Linked DNA regions of Homo sapiens: region 1 is linked to region 2. Evidence: fine-mapped expression QTL. A gene starts in region 2. The other region holds a variant in brackets. All regions are shown on one strand. Distances are between the middles of the regions.

Region 1 (2,913 bases), 33 kb after region 2:
CTTTCTTTCTTTCTTTTTTTTTTGAGAAAGAGTTTTGCTCTTGTTGCCGAGGCTGGAGTGCAATGGCGCGGTCTCGGCTAGCCACAACCCCTGCCTCCCGGGTTCAAGCAGTTCTTCTGCCTCAGGCTCCTGAGTAGCTGGGATTACCGGCATGCACCACCATGCCCGGCTAATTTTGTATTTTTAGTAGAGATGGGGTTCTCCATGTTGTTCAGGCTGGTCTCGAACTCCTGACCTCAGGTGATCCACCTGCCTTGGCCTCCCAAAGTGCTGGGATTACAGGCGTGAGCCACTGCTCCTGGCAACACTTTGATTTTTCTAAGGTTGGCAGAGGGATTTCCTCATACGCTGTGTTCAAACATGTGTTTGCACATTGACGTTTGTGATTTTCTTTTTTTTAATTATTTTTATACGTTCTGGGGTACATGTGCAGGATGTGTACGTTTGTTGCATAGGTAAACATGTGCCATGTGGTTTGCTGCACAGATCATCCCATCACCTAAGTATGAAGCCCAGCATGCATTAGCTCCTTTCCCTAATGTTCTCCCCAACCCCACCGCTGCCCTCCAGTAGGCCCCAGTGTGTGTTGTTCCCCTCTCTGTGTCCGTGTGTTCTCATTGTTCGGCTTCCACTTGTAAGTGAGAACATGTGGTGTTTGGTTTTCTGTTTCTGCATTAGTTTGCTGAGGATAATGGCTTTCAGCTTCATCCATGTCCCTGCAGAGGATATTCTCTTGTTCCTTTTGATGGCTGCATAGTATTCCATGGTGTATATGTACCACATTTTCTTTTTCCAGTCTATCATTGATGGGCATTTGGGTTGGTTCCAAGTCTTTGCTATTTTGAATAATGCTGCAATGAACATATGTGTGCATGTATCTTTATAATACAATGATTTATATTCCTGAGTATATACCCAGTAATGGGATTGCTGGGTCAAATGGTATGATTTTCCTTTTTACATTAAAAAAAATTTCTTTCGTTCCTTTCTCTTTTGTGAGAAATCACACCCGGATGTCATTTTCACTACTTCTTGATGAGGAGGTGTGGAGTCTCTCAAGGGGATGACATGCAGATTCTTACTGGCATAAAAGTGACCCTCAGTTGGCGAATACCTTATTGAATTTCTGTACTATTATTGGGCATGTCCTAAGCCCTCAAGCAAGGGATGGCAAATAGATTCTATCTGACACTACAACTAACTCTAGTCAACTGGCAGTGATTTTCCGGTGCTCTTCAGGATTTTGAGGCTTCCACCTGGCTGTCAAAGGGAAATAAATGCTGCATTTGATCAGCAACATCTGCCACGGGTCTGGGTGGAAAGGGGCACCCAGGTTGCCACATCTTCCCTCCTGGCTTCTCATCTATGGAGATGGCCAGCACCATGGAGCCAGCATTCAGCAAGAATGGCCCCAGGGAAGGGAAAAGGAAATGGCTGCGCTGCCATCAAGAGTGGGCCGAGGTAAATATCC[G/A]GTGCAGCATGACGCAGTGGGATTGGAGTGCAGGTGCACAATCCCGTGCAGCATATAATCAGTTATGTAACCATGTTATGGGTGGGCTCATCCCCTGGCTCTGAGCCGCTATTGTCTGTGAAGCGCACAAATGTATCACGAACACTGTGAGAAGGCATGCATAATGGAGTTGGCTGCCTTGCAGGTGGGGGTGGGTGGGTGGAGCCAGGAAATGGTGAGCACACTGGGGAGTGCAGCTGCAGACTGTGGAGCTGGCACTGAGTGGGGCTGCTGAGCAGGCAGCCAAGACAAAGGCTGACACAGAGAATAAAGCCATATCCCACCTGTATAAGATCCCTCGAGTGTTCTTTCAGCTACCCGCCACCGGTCCACCTACTCCCCTCGGACCCCAGCTTGGGTTGGAAGCTGACACTGACTTTCTTTCTTTTCTGTGAGGTGGAGTCTAGCTCTGTTGCCCAGGCTGGAGTGCAGTGGTACGATCTCGGCTCACTGCAACCTCCGCTTCCCAGGTTCAAGCGATTCTCCTGCCTCAGCCTCCAGAGTAGCTGGGACTACAGGTGTGCACCAGCACACCTGGCTAATTTTTGTATTTTTAGTAGAGATGGGGTTTCACCATGTTGGCCAGGCTGGTCTCAAACTCCTGACCTCAGGTGATCTGCCCACCTCGGCCTCCCAAAGTGCCATGATAACAGGTGTGAGCCACCACACCCGGCTTCTGACACTGACAAATAGCTTATGTCCTGAGGTGCTTTGAGTCATGAGACGCAGTTTAGCCTGGCAGCCGAAAGCTTGGGTTAGTATCCTAGCTCCCCCACTTTCCTAGCTTTGAGCCTACGGAGCAAAGACCTGAGGGATGGCTGACTTTTGAACTCCGACAAAGTAGGTATTTTCTCAGTAATTGTAATTAAACTACCAAACGGAGAGTTTAATCATTCATAGCAAAGGAATACTTGAAAGAAGCTCCTTTGAATCTCATAACAAAAAAGGCTGGTGCCTCCATTTTCTCATGTATGAAATAGGAATTATAACAGTAACTGCCTCATCCAGCTGCTGTGAGGATGGCGTAGTTAACACGTGAGGGGCATGGTAAATGATGGCCAGTTTGCACCACAGTCATCCTTTCTTCCACTGCTTCCTGCCCTCTTTCTCCTGGCATGGCCACCAGCCTCACCCCTTCAAGGCCGCGTTGCAATGACCTGCTGCTGCTCCCCTGGGAGTGACCATGAGGCCTTCGTGGGCAGCCTTTCCCCACTGCCTGGATTCCACTTTAATATGAATTGTTCCCTTTCATGGGTACTTCCTATATGCCAGGCATAGTAATAAGCCCTTTACATGTATCATTAAGCTTTTCAAAATCTCTAGGAGGGAGGCGTTATTGCTCCCCCTTCATAGATGAGCAGGTGCCGAGAGCTTACGTGACTTGTCCCAGGCCACATGGTAAG
Region 2 (2,913 bases):
GTCAGGGAAAACTTCCTGGAAGACACATCTATGCTGAAATGTGAGTTAAGTTTGCCAGACTAAAAAAATGAGAGGGCTCACTTTCTTTGAGTATTCAGGAGGACAAACAAACAAACAACAACAACCAAACCCAAAAACAGTACGAGAGCACAAACAAGACTGAAGTACACATATGTGCCCTGAACACAAAAAACATCTTGAGCACCCTGCTTTTAAGCCTCCTGGCCATTCTGTCACTTCTGTTGGAAAGTATTTCCCTCCTTGTCCATTTCTGTGAATTCCTTCTGTTATGGTTAAACTGTTCCCCCAGCACTCCAGAATGTGATTGTATTTGGAGATCAGGCTTGTAAGAAGGTAATTAAGTTAAAATGAGGCCATTAAGGTGGGCCCTAATACAACCTGACTGACGTTCTCATAAAGAGGAAATCTGGATGCAAAGAGAGACGCCAGAGATGTGAAAACACAGAGGAAAGACCATGCGAGGACACAGCAAGAAAGCAGCCACGTGCAAGCCAAGGAGAAATGTCTCAGAAGAAACCAAACCTGAAGACACCTTGATCTTGGACTTCTAACCTCCAGAACTGTGAGAAAATAATAAATTTCTGTTGTTTAAGCCACCCAGTATTTTGTTTGCAGTCCTAGCAAACTAATACACCTTCTATTCCAGGCCCAACACTGCTCACTTTCAGAGTGAAACCTTATCACCCATATACACACACCTTGGGAGTGAAGGTTTCTCACAATACTCTGTGCATCCTCCACTCAACTTTCATTCATTCATTTAAGCAACAAACACCTAGTGACCACCACTGTGTGCCAGACCCTGTTTTAAGGGCTGAGAAGAGCTAACGTTTATTGAGTACTTACTAAGTGGCAGCCACTAGTCTAAGCGATTTACATGCACCAACTCATGAAATACGACAAGGTTCCAGGGACGCAGGTGCCGCTATGACATTCGCTTTACAGATGCGGGGCTGAGGCACAAAGAGGCCACACCGTAATGAAACTGAGCTAGGCTGTGGGCTCTGTCGTCTTAAGCGCTACTCTCAACTACAGCGTGGAAGGAAACAGAAGCCGAGAGATGGGCAGCGCGTAGCGGAGGCGGGCCGGGCTGGCTTCCAGCGGGCAAAGCCTGGAGATGAGAGGGCGCGGGTGGGGTTTCCAGGCCGAGGAAGCTGCACCAGGGAGAAGGCCCGGCTCCCAGGCCCGGAACCTGGCCGTCTGGGTCTCAGTCCGCGTCCCCTGTGATGCCCGGCACAGAGCAAATGCTCGCTGACTCTCGCAGGAGCCGCCAACCCCCCGGGTATCCTCGAGTGCCCAGAGACGGGAAGGAGCGGTGGGTCCATGCCCTTCTGGGCCACCTTCGGGCGCCCGGCCTCCCTTCCCTTCCGGGCCATTCCCACCAGCGCCAGCCCCGCACGCCTTCGCAAGGCCGGCCACCTTACCCTCGGAGGCCGCTCTCTGCCCCGCCGCCTACTCTTCACCTGCAGCAGCTGCCTTCAAGGCCACTCGCAGCGATCCGCTGGCCGCGGAATCATCACGACAACGCCCCCTTGGCTTGCCGGAACCGCCTTCCTGCTTCCGTTGGCGTCACTTCCACTGGGGGGGGCGTGGCCGCGGTGCGCAGGCGCGCTGGGTGGTTCAGAAGCGAATTCTGCACCGCGAAGCCTGAGAGGCAGGTAGCTGCGGCGCTGGGCTGGCGGCGGCGAGTCCACGTGCTCCCCGCGGCCGGTTGAAACCGTTGGCGGGCGCTGGCTGAGAGGTGAGGGGTGGTGGCCCAGAGGTCCGACCTGGGAGGCTGGGGCTCAGAGAGTGAGTAGGGGAGGGACGGGATTTCCACCGTCAGCCCCTCTGGGTTACGCATGGAGGAAGGAGTTCCATTCAGATCTCACTCCTGCTCTGGGGAAGTGGCAGGAGTCCTGGACTTAGGGTGACCAACTCGTTTTAGTTTTAAAACTTAAGGTCCGGCGTCCTGGGAACTCCCTCGGGCCTGGCCAAACCAGGACGATTGGTCACCGCCCGACTGGGCTTCAGGCTTGCTGCATGTTGGAGACAGGGCTCTTCTCTGAGCCTTGGGAGATCAGTCCCTAAAGAGGAGGCCTTAGGATGTAGCGGTCCAGAGCACATACTTAGGATCAGAATAACTACTGCGTGTGAATCTGGGTTGCCACTACCTGGATGTGGGATGACCTGGTGTAAGTTTTTTAACCTCTTTGCGCCTCACTTTCCTCATCTGTCATAACATATAGAATCTAACTCGGAGAACTGTGATGAGGATTACATGAGTAGAAATGTGTTAACCTCCTATGAGAGGGCTTGGGTGCTCCATGAATGTTAGGATTCTCTGAAGCACCTACCTCTGAGGAGAGAGGGAGGAGGATGAGGTGGGGTCTGTATTTGCAACCCTGATTTCTAGCAGAGAGGGCCCACTTGGGACTTACTCACACTGTGCCCGAGGCTCCCAGGGTCTAGCATAGTGCCTGACACATGGTAGTTACTCGAGTGAAGGGATGGTGTTTAAAACAGTGCTGGTGATGCCGTGGGTGGGGTAGGAGGCAGAGAGAAATGGCTTCTGTGCCTCAGTTTGCTCATCTGTTTAGTGGAGATAGGTGCACCTACTTCCCAGGGCTTTTGCAAGGAACAAGGGAGAGATTCTCTCCTTGTGAATGTCACCCATTGTAACCCTTGTCAGCCTCATACACAAAGGTTTAGGCAGGATGGTGGACAGAGTATGTTTGTCTGTCCTTCTCTTGCACCATACCCATGGTTTCTCAGAATGCTACCCGTGGAAGGGGCTTGAGTCTTGTCAAGTTGGCCTGACTTCTTGTTTCACAGATGAGATAACTTGAAGTTTATAGAGGCAGTGGCATGCTCAGGGTCACAGTGTTCAGTGGGGGATATCCTGGGGTTGCC

Which allele goes with the higher level. Alleles are on the strand shown, and positions count from the first base shown. SD is a standard deviation of normalised expression in the study named.
In carriers of allele G in region 1, the expression in subcutaneous fat of the gene that starts at base 1,644 in region 2 tends to be higher than with A alone (small effect, 0.24 SD a copy in GTEx).

What was found.
Region 1: its variant is fine-mapped to the expression of LYAR in subcutaneous fat (GTEx, PIP 0.98).

Annotation. Positions count from the first base shown.
Region 1 is chr4:4,255,719-4,258,631 of GRCh38, reverse strand. No RefSeq gene overlaps it. Among named protein-coding and RNA genes, the nearest start is that of TMEM128, 9.0 kb to the right of the region's middle. RefSeq lists an enhancer at 1,092-1,592. The variant G/A (reference allele first, on the strand shown) is at 1,472.
Region 2 is chr4:4,288,885-4,291,797 of GRCh38, reverse strand. It overlaps LYAR (Ly1 antibody reactive), which reads left to right and starts at 1,644. Exons shown (of 10, transcript NM_017816.3): 1 at 1,644-1,762. ZBTB49 (zinc finger and BTB domain containing 49) reads right to left here and starts at 1,547. Exons shown (of 8, transcript NM_145291.4): 1 at 1,446-1,547. RefSeq lists an enhancer at 2,619-2,913.